Linked DNA regions of Homo sapiens: region 1 is linked to region 2. The links come from fine-mapping of genetic effects on gene expression. A gene starts in region 2. The other region holds a variant in brackets. All regions are shown on one strand. Distances are from middle to middle.

Region 1 (5,000 bases), 330 kb before region 2:
GATATAGAAGGAAGGATTTAAGCCCAGGCATGGTGGCTTACACCTGTAATCTTAGCACTTTGGGAGGTTGAGGTGGGCAGGTCACTTAAGCCCACTGAAGTTCAAGACCAGCCTGAGCAACATGTTGAAACCCTGTCTCTACCAAAAATAAAAAATCAGTTGGCCAGCTGGGCGTGATGGCTCACGCCTGTAATCCCAGCACTTTGGGAGGCCAAGGTGGGTAGATCACCTGAGGTCAGGTAGACCAGCCTGACCAATATCGTGAAACCCCATCTCTACTAAAATACAAAAATTAGCTGGGCGTGGTGGCAGGCGCCTGTAATCCCAGCTACTCAGGAGGCTGAGGCAGGAGAATCACTTGAACCCAGGAGGCAGAGGTTGCAGTTAGCCAAGATTGCACCATTGCACTCCAGCCTGGACAACAAGAGCGAAACTCCATCTCAAAAGAAACAAAAACAACAAAATTAGTTGGCCAGGCGCGATAGCTCACGCCTGTAATCTCAGCACTTTGGGAGACCGAGGCAGGCAGATCACCTGAGGTCAGGAGTTTGAGACTAGCCTGGCCAACATGGCGAAACCCTGTCCCTACTAAAAATACAAAAATTAGCCAGGCGTGGTGGCGAGTGCCTGTAGTCCCAGCACTTGGGAGGCTGAGGCAGGAGAATTGCTTGATCCCAGGAGGCAGAGGTTGCAGGGAGCCGAGATGGCACCACTGTACTCCCATCTCAAAAAAAAAAAAAAAAAAAAACAGCTGGGCATGGTGGTGCATGCCTGTAATCTCAGCTACTCAAGAGGCTGAAGTGGGAGACTCTTGAGCCCAGGAGGTTGAGGCTGCAGTGAGCTGTGATCATGCCACTGCACTCCATTCTGGGCAACAGGAGGCCCTGTCTCCAAAACAACAAAAAAGGATTTAGGTTAGTGCTGTGGCTTCAGTAATAGGTGGTAGGAAGTTAGCCAGATTCTTGAGACACTGCTAAATTTGCTACAGCTGGTGGTGAGGCTACTTTTCTCTAACCAGAGCTGCTCTTAAACCAGTTTAAAGGCTAACAGACTCAGATTAGTAGTGCTAGGAGTAAGCCCTGCATCAGAAAAAGGCTGAGCCAGATTCTCTCCAAGGACCTATCACATTAACTAAATTTGACTTCATAGTTTTCTGGCTCATATTTACAAAACAAAAAGAAAACATATATACACACACACACACACACACACACACATATACACACACATTTTTGCCTAGTTACCACCCCTCTCCAGTGTTTCTCCTTTTTTAATTTTTAAAAAACAATTAGGCCAGGCACAGTGGCTCATGCCTGTAATCCCAGCACTTTGGGAGGCCAAGGCACACGAATCACGAGGTCAGGAGATCAAGACTAAAATACAAAAAATTAGCTGGATGTGGTGGCGGGCGCCTGTAGTCCCAGCTACTCGGGAGGCTGAGGCAGGAGAATGGCGTGAACCAAGGAGGCAGAGGTTGCACTGAGCCGAGATCACGCCACTGCACTCCAGCCTGGGTGACAGAGCGAGACTCCATCTCAAAAAAATAAAAAATTAAATTCACTTATGAGCTATTAAAAGAGGTCTGTCTTCCCAAGGTGCTAATATTCTGCTAGGATTAGGCTTTGGCTAAAATATTCATACATAGTACTTTGAGCAGAAAAGCAAATCACATATTAATGATTAGCAGTGACATTTTGCAGTAAAGTATGTCTTCTAGATTATGGACATCTTATTTATCTTTGTTTAGATCCCCATAGAACACATTTAATGATGGACTCAACTCTACTTAAGCTTTATTGTACTTTATATGGAAATGTTGATGTGTAAATTCTGACTACATGTGAAATTTTACCTACAATAATAAAGCATTTACCTCACATATTTTATACTTAATCTTGACAGGTGAAGCAAAAATTTTCCCTTATTTCTTAGGGGAATGGTCTGACAATCTACAGAAGTTAACCTGTCCATCCATGCACACATTCCAACCAGTGGTGATGTACATAAGGCTCATGTTAGCGTCAGTATTCCCCAAGGAAGCAAGACTGTCTCTGTTTTACAAAAGGGAAAATAAGGCAAAGATGCTGGGATTTTCTTATGATCTGCAAGGCACTATGCAGAGCCAAGAAAAAAAATTTGCAGGTTTTGCTGGCCTCAGCAAAATCTCTGGTGGTTCTGTGCTAGGTTTCAACCAATTTAACATAGGAAGTTTAACATATACCAGGTGCGTGACTCACGCCTGTAATCCTAGCATTTTGGGAGGCTGAGGCAGGTGGATTGCCCGAGCTCAAGAGTTTGAGACCAGCCTGGGCAACATGGTGAAACCCCATCTCTACTAAAAATACAAAAAATTAGCCGGGCATGGTGGTGTGCACCTGTAATCCCAGCTACTAGGGAGGCTGAGGCACAAGAATCGCTTGAACCCAGGAGGCAGAGGTTACAGTGAGCCAAGATCACGCCAATGCACTCCAGCCTGGGCAACAGAGTGAGACTCTGTCTCAAAAAAATAAATAAATAAATAAAAGTATCTTGATTTCTATGTCATTGGCACAAGAAAAAAAATTTTCTGCAAAAGAGTTCTATATCATCACTGCCCAATAACACTCCTGGCAGTGATGGAAGTGTTCCATATCTGTGCTGTCCAATTTGTGGCTACTGTGGTTACTGAGTACCTGAAATGTGGTTTATTCCACTGAGAAACTGAGTTTTTTATTTAATTATAATTAGCTACATGTAGCTAGTGGCTACTCTATTGGACAGCAGTTTAGATAGTAAAATAAGCTGCTCATAGGTGGAGAAAAAGCCCTGCAGAATTGCATAATTTTTATTTTAGAAAACCTTTCACACCAAAAGAGTACTGTTGAGTAGGACAAATGTATTTTTTTGTTTTGAGATGGAGTCTCGCTCTGTCACTGAGGCTGGAGTGCACTGGCATGATCTCGGCTCA[C/G]TGCAACCTCTGCCTCCCAGGTTCAAGCAATTCTCCTGTCTCAACCTCCCCAGTAGCTGGGATCACAGTCGCGCGCCACCACGCCTGGTGAATTTTCGTATTTTTAGTGGAGATGGGGTTTCACCATATTGGTCAGGCTGGTCTTGAACACCTGACCTCAGGTGATCCACCCACCTCGGCTTCCCAAAGTGCCGGGATTACAGGCGTGAGCCACCACACCTGGCCAATGTTTTTATTCCTAAACCTTACTTCTTATATGATAAATTGCATATTGTGAATACAAAATTCCTTTAGTTCACCAAGTTTCTCACTATAGACCATTTCAGAGTCCCATGAGGCCTCTCAACGCTAAAAGCTCCTGAATTCATTTATCAACTGTTTGAATTCCTACTATGAGCTAGGATGTGGGAACATGGTGATGAATGAGGCATATGTGGTTTCTGTAGCCTCAGATCTACCCCCTTCCTCAGGTTTCCAGCATGGCACAGAAAGACACTAGGCCCTCAGGGCACTCAAGGTGCTGTTAGAAACTTGTCCTAAGGGCAGAAAAAGGTTGGCTGCCTGCAAGATGGACCAGAAAAGGGAAGCAACTTGCCCCAGATTGGTTTCATAGCTTGTCAGGATTTTGCTTACAAACCTGGTCCTCAGGAAGTCACCTGGCCTAGGAGATTTGGGAAAAGGAAGGAGGGGAGAAATAAATATTCCTGGGAAGAGCTGTCAGTTTGTTGGAAGATCAATCTCGGCTTTCTTCAGACCAGAGCTAGGCTCTGCCGCTGAGGAGAAATGAAATGCAAGAAATGATAGAATCAGCTCCAGGAACTTGCAGGAGAAGAATGAAAAATCTGACGAGATGAATTCAATCTGAAGTGCCTTAGGTTTGCAGGGCCTTTGAGAATCCAGGCCAAATTCAAACCGTGTATCTGTCACCCCTGCAAATCCACAAGAACCCAATGAGGTAGCATCACTGGCTCTCCCAGCAATTAAGGCTACTGAGATTTAGAAAGTTTAGGCCGGGCACGGCTGAGCGCAGTGGCTCACGCCTGTAATCCCAGCACTTTGGGAGGCCGAGTCGGGTGGATCACGAGGTCAGGAGATCGAGACCATCCTGGCTAACATGGTGAAACCCTGCCTCTACTAAAAATACAAAAAAAATTAGCCAGGTATGGTGGCACATGCCTGTAGTCCCAGCTACTCGGGAGGCTGAGGCAGAAGAATGGCGTGAACCCGGGAGGCAGAGCTTGCAGTGAGCTGAGATCGCACCACTGCACTCCAGCCTGGGCGACAGAGCAAGACTCCATCTCAAATTAAAAAAAAAAAAAAAAAGTTTAGGTCGGGTGCAGTGGCCTACCTACACCTGTAATCCCAGCACTTTGGGAGCCGAGGTAGAAGGATCACCTGAGGTCTGGAGTTTGAGACCAGCCAGGACAACATGGCGAAACCCTGTCTCTACTAAAACTACAAAAAAATTAGGCAGAAGCCTGTAATTCCAGCTATTCAGTAGGCTGAAGTAGGAGAATCACTTGAACCCAGGAGGCAAAGGTTGTAGTGAGCCAAGATCGTGCCACTGCACTCCAGCCTGGTTGCAGAGCAAGACTCTGTCTCAAAAAAAAAAAAAAAAAAAGAGAGACTCCCATCTCAAAAAAAAAGAAATTGTGATAAGTACCACAAATTACACAAAATGGGTCCAATGGCAGGGAATAATGGGAGGACATATCTACTAAGCTACAGGTGGTTTGGGAGGGCATTCCAATACTTGATCCTGAAGCTAAGACCTGAAGTTAAGTTAGCTCTAAAGCAGTAAAGAGAAAGGTCCCTTCAGATTTAAAAAAAAAAAAAAAAAAAAGGCCCTGAGGCAGGAAAGAGCTCAGTGTATACAAGGATCTGAAAGGAGAGTCAGTATGGTCAGAAAAGGATAGATAAGCAGGGAAAAGGGCCTGAGATAATAAAGTGTGACAGAGGAAAGGCACGTTCAAACTAAGGGATTGGGCATTTTACTTTAGATAAAAGGGGAAGTTGCTGAAAGGTTCTAAGTAACGAAAGAAACATCTGATTT
Region 2 (5,512 bases):
GTGAGGCCTCTTCTGGTCTTACCCTGGTGCCTATGGCTTCACTTTCCTGTGTGCTTCTGTGCCCTACCATGGGGTACCCACATCCCAGAGGGCACTGGCTGCCTCCACCCCTTCCTAGGCAGGGCTAGCTTAAGCTTAGTCCAGGGCCTGCTGTGCTTTCATCTGTCCTGGCAGAGCTGAGTCCTCCTGCACCCCTGAGGGTATTCCTGCAGCAGCCAGTCTTAGTCATTATGGCAACCTGGTGCTGGAGAGCAGGCCCAGGCAGGGAGGGAGGAATCTGGAAGGCCATGACTTGAGTGAATGGAAGGTGAAGGCATGGAGACATCAAGTAGGGAGCACTGGGGGAGGGAGAGTTGTCTCTGAAGGGATAAGCCCTGCGTCTGTCTTTGGATCAGGGAAGGGGCCAGGTTAGGGCCAGTGCTGCAGAGTGAGATGGGATGGGCCTCAGCCAGCTGACCTAAGACGAGGTGAGGGTGAGCAAGGGACAGGGAACAACATTTGGTGTCCTCCATAGACTTGGTTCCAGGACGACCCCTGGAACCAGGGGGTTAAGAGGTAGGAGGTGGAACCTGACCTCGGACCCAGGTCCTCAGCTCCCACTCCATGCTGTCCGCTGTACCCCCACTCCTGAATGTCAGGTGGGTGGCCCTGCCCTCGTCACCTGCCACCTCCACTAGGCTTCCTTGACCCCCACCACAGGCCCATACATCGTGTACATGCTTCAAGAGATCGACATCCTGGAGGACTGGACAGCCATCAAAAAGGTGGGGGCCGCTGCTGCCCACGTGACCTGCCCCACCTCAGGGCCCCCCACCCTGGCAGCAGCTCTGCCATCTGCAGGCCTGGGAGTTCTCTGCTCACCAAGGCTTCCCCATCTTCAGCCCAGAGTCCCTGGATCGCAGTTGGCTCACAAGTCCTCTTGCTCAAGGCGGCCCTGGGAAAAGGGATTTCTAGTCTGTGTCAGCCCCTTCCCGTTCTGGGGCAGGTTTTGATGGGGTGGGAGGGTGGCGGGGAGGCGGGAGAGCCGCTGAGCTGGCCAGCAGTCAGGAGCATGGGAGCTCTGCCTGGGTGGGGCCTATGCTCCCGGTCCTGGGGGCACAGCACTGAGGCAACAGCCCACAAGCCACAGAGGTGGGGGGTGGGGCAGGGATTGCCAAGCTGGAGGTGGGCTCTCAGGGGAGCTTTTCTTCTCACCCACCCAGGCTAGGGCAGCTGTGTCCCCTCAGAAGAGAAAATCGGATGGTAAGAACCATGGCTGTTGCATGGCCTTCCCTGCCCCCTTGCCATCACCTTTCCTCAGCTCAGCTTCCAGGAAGGAGCCCAGAGAAAGGCTGTGACTGTGTCAGAATCAGTGGCTCAAGAAAGTTAGGATGGTCTAGATTTGAGGGGCTTGTGGGAGTTTGAGGAGCAGGAACCAGGATGGGGCTGGGGAAGCTCTGGGTTGATGGAGCTCCCACTCAGGAGGGGTCAGGGAGGGCTGTGGAGCTGCCCAGGAGGCCTGTTCTGGGCCAGCCCAAAGCCACTCAGTAAGTGGCTGCCTCCTTCCTTTCAGCTTCCTAACTGGTGACAGTTTTCTTCTTCCCACATATGCACAGGACCTTGACCCTGCTGTTCACAGCCAGGGGGACCCTCAGAGCAGCTGGCACTGCACCCAGGATTCTCGTCTTCCTCCTGCAGACAGGCGGACCCACAGGCCCCTCAGGGTCTGCCCAGCCAGGCTCCTGTGGTGCTGCTGGGCCCTCCCACTCCATCTGGCACTGGCCTGGACTCCTCCTCTGCCCTCCTCGAGGCCTGCACAGCTGTGGCCGTGGAGCTGACCTGACCAGGCAAGGCTGCTGTCTCCATCCCTGAGCCGCCTGCCACCTCCCACTCCTGAAGATCCATCTCTTGGGGCTCCCCTGACAGAGAAGACAGCCGAAGTCAAAGCCACATCCTCTTGCTGATGTTGGATGCAGGCTGTCCGGCCTCAGGGCCAGGGAGCCAGTTTCCACTGTGCGGGAACTCTGAGTCAGACGTGATTATCTGGGGGTCTGTCCACCCTGGCTGGATCTGGAGGCAAGATGCCAGGCCCCCCAGGTGTTCTCAGGGCAGTTCTTGGTGTCTGCTTCTCAGATTCCAAGGACTGGAATTAAAACCTTTCCTGGGACTCTGGCGTGCCCTGTGTGTGTGTGTGATTTACCTTGCAAGAGAATCAGGGCTCCCGTGGGGAGCACCTGAACCAGGCCGACTTCTAGGGTGCCTGCAGATTGCCACTCCTCACACTACCCAGCAGAGGCTAGAGCACTGTGCGTGGGGCCAGGCTGGGGAGGGGGAGGTGGGCGCTGGGCTGCCTGGCGCTGGGCAGAGTCAACATATGGCACCGGGAGAGTGCCTCGGCGGGGAGGGTGGATGCGTGTGCTTGGAGCCTGGGTCATGTCTGCACCTGTCCCAGTTGCCTGGCAGATTGGCAAGGCAGGCTGGCAGAGCCTGCGTGCGTGGGAGGCAGCCGGCAGCACCGCCATGTGCTGACGACCTCACAGCCAGACTCCCCCTGGTTAGCACTGAGTGTCAGAACCACCCCCAGAACCTCAGTTAAGCAAATAGGTTGGTTTCCATGGAGACATGGCATATTTTCTCCATGGCAACCTAAAATCCTAAAACCCAGGTTCAGGAATGAGTCATCTATGGACAGTAGAGGGTGCTCTCCCACAAGGCTGACCTGAGGCCAGGGGCAGATGAGCAACTGACCACAGAGCCAAAGGTGCCCCCAGAGCATGGCTGGGGCCTGTGGGGACTGAGGCCGCTTAACCACTTCCCGCCCACGTGTGCAATGTGAGTAGCTGGTGAGGCTGCAGGAGGCCGTGTGTGGAGGTGGCATCCCCCAGCTGGGGCCCTCAGAGCAGGGCTAGCATGGAGGGGACCCCTGACCCCCAAAGCAGGGTCCAGAACAGAGGAGGCGGGCACTGGCCAGGCAGGGTGGACACACAAGAGTTAACTGGCGGGTGTGACAGGCGGACCGCCCTCAGGAAGTGTTACTCACTGGGGATGTGCGTGCCTTGCCTTGGGACTGGATTCTCTTCCTGAAGCGAAGGAGCTCCCAGCCATGGAAAGCCCTGGAGAGTCAGGCGCGGGCTCTCCTGGAGCCCCCAGCCCGTCCAGCTTCACTACTGGGCACCTGGCGAGAGAAAAGTTAGTGAAGTTGGCAGGGCAGCCAGGTGGGGCAGGGAGGGGCTGCGAGAGGAGGGCCTATCCGGGGATAGAGAAAGTGGGAAACCCGGGAGTGGGGAAGAGGAGAGCAAGGGTCCCAGCCCCTGGCTCCCTGCTCAGATCTGGGTGCCTGCCCCCAGGCCAGCCCAGGACCCACTGTATGACGTGCCCAATGCCAGCGGCGGGCAGGCAGGCGGGCCGCAGCGGCCGGGGCGCGTTGTGAGCCTGCGGGAGCGCCTGCTGCTCACCCGGCCCGTGTGGCTGCAGCTGCAAGCCAACGCAGCGGCCGCACTGCACATGCTGAGGACCGAGCCCCCGGGGGTGAGTCTTGCCCCACACTCCAGGGACTGGCCAGCCAGGGGTGGGAGGGAGAGGGATGGGACGCCAAGGTCCTGAGCTGCCTGAGCCCTATCCACTTGCAGACGTTCCTCGTGCGGAAATCTAACACCCGCCAGTGCCAGGCCCTGTGCATGCGGTTGCCTGAAGCCAGTGGCCCCTCCTTCGTCTCCAGCCACTACATCCTGGAGAGCCCTGGCGGTGAGGGGCTGGCCTGGCGGGAAGGGGCTGGAAGCAGGGAGGTTCCCCAGAGAAGCACCTCACTTCCCTCCTCTCTCAGGCGTCTCCTTGGAGGGCTCGGAGCTCATGTTCCCAGACCTAGTCCAGCTCATCTGTGCCTACTGCCACACCCGGTGAGTCTGCCCGCAGGGTGCCTGGTGTCCACGGGCCCTGCTCCTTGGGACAGCCCATCCTTCCCGCCCTCTTCGGCCCTCACTCCCTTCTGCTCCCCTCTCTGGCCTCAGGGACATCCTTCTCCTCCCGCTGCAGCTCCCCAGAGCCATCCACCACGCAGCCACTCACAAAGAGCTGGAGGCCATCTCCCATCTGGGCATTGGTAAGGGCTTCCTGCCACCCATTGCACAGATGAACAAGCTGAGGCCGAGGGGAAGGCAAGGCTCGCAGCACACCGCCCGAAGCCCCTGCCTTGCCTTGGTTGGGAAACTTCCCCTAACCAGTCCCGGAGGCCCCAGTCGGTTTCTTGTTCCCTAGAGTTCTGGAGCTCCTCCCTCAACATCAAGGCTCAGCGGGGCCCGGCTGGAGGCCCAGTGTTGCCCCAGCTGAAGGCCCGGTCCCCTCAAGAGCTGGACCAGGGCACCGGAGCCGCCTTGTGCTTCTTCAACCCCCTGTTCCCGGGGGACCTAGGGCCCACCAAGCGGGAGAAATTCAAGAGAAGCTTCAAAGTGCGCGTGTCCACAGAGACCTCCAGCCCCCTGTCTCCACCTGCCGTGCCACCTCCCCCCGTCCCCGTGCTGCCAGGGGCAGTCCCCAGCCAGACAGAGCGGCTGCCCCCTTGCCAGCTGCTACGGAGGGAGAGCTCAGTGGGGTACCGCGTGCCAGCAGGCAGTGGCCCTAGCCTTCCGCCTATGCCCTCCCTCCAAGAGGTGGACTGCGGCTCCCCCAGCAGCTCCGAGGAGGAGGGGGTGCCAGGGTCCCGGGGGAGCCCAGCGACCTCACCCCACCTGGGCCGCCGACGACCTCTGCTTCGGTCCATGAGCGCCGCCTTCTGCTCCCTACTGGCACCGGAGCGGCAGGTGGGCCGGGCTGCGGCAGCACTGATGCAGGACCGACACACAGCCGCGGGCCAGCTGGTGCAGGACCTACTGACCCAGGTGCGGGCTGGGCCCGAGCCCCAGGAGCTGCAGGGCATCCGTCAGGCGCTGAGCCGGGCCCGGGCCATGCTGAGTGCGGAGCTGGGCCCTGAGAAGCTGCTGTCGCCTAAGAGGCTGGGTGAGGCTCCGTCTCTCCATAGCTCCAGCACTGCCCCATCCGACCCTCTGCTCCCCTCCACAGCGCCAGCCTGTCTGATTCTGTTCTGCTGCTTTACAAATCCATCTTGTCTTACCACTGTTCGAGAGAGTTCCATCCCCTCTCTCCCCCAACTCTTCCGTCTCACCCAGGCTACCTCCTCCTGCTTTCCTTGCCTCTCCTCCCCGATTCTACCCCTGCTCCCTTCTCCCCTTGCCTCTGCCCCCCATACCCCCAGTCTTCCCCTGACCCCTCCCTGTCCCTCCGGCAGAACATGTCCTGGAGAAGTCATTGCATTGCTCTGTGCTCAAGCCTCTCCGGCCCATCCTGGCAGCCCGCCTGCGGCGCCGGCTTGCCGCAGACGGCTCCCTGGGCCGCCTAGCTGAGGGCCTCCGCCTGGCCCGGGCCCAGGGCCCCGGAGCCTTCGGGTCCCACCTGAGCCTGCCCTCCCCAGTAGAGTTGGAGCAAGTGCGCCAGAAGCTGCTGCAGCTGCTCCGCACCTACTCACCCAGCGCCCAGGTCA

What was found. PIP is the estimated chance that this variant, and not a neighbour inherited with it, causes the effect. A credible set is the group of variants that fine-mapping cannot tell apart.
Region 1: its variant is the best candidate, but not a certain one, in a credible set for the expression of RIN1 in whole blood (INTERVAL, PIP 0.51).

What each region holds. Positions count from the first base shown.
Region 1 is chr11:66,659,920-66,664,919 of GRCh38, reverse strand. It overlaps a transcript of RBM4 not described here. Among named protein-coding and RNA genes, the nearest start is that of RBM4B, 15 kb to the left of the region's middle. The variant C/G (reference allele first, on the strand shown) is at 2,948.
Region 2 is chr11:66,333,973-66,339,484 of GRCh38, reverse strand. RIN1 (Ras and Rab interactor 1) reads left to right here and starts at 3,051. Exons shown (of 10, transcript NM_004292.3): 1 at 3,051-3,168; 2 at 3,327-3,507; 3 at 3,609-3,723; 4 at 3,803-3,875; 5 at 3,987-4,078; 6 at 4,234-4,971; 7 at 5,261-5,512. The coding sequence starts at 3,083. BRMS1 (BRMS1 transcriptional repressor and anoikis regulator) reads left to right here. Exons shown (of 10, transcript NM_015399.4): 8 at 700-764; 9 at 1,203-1,242; 10 at 1,596-2,146. The coding sequence ends at 1,603. RefSeq lists an enhancer at 1,717-2,571.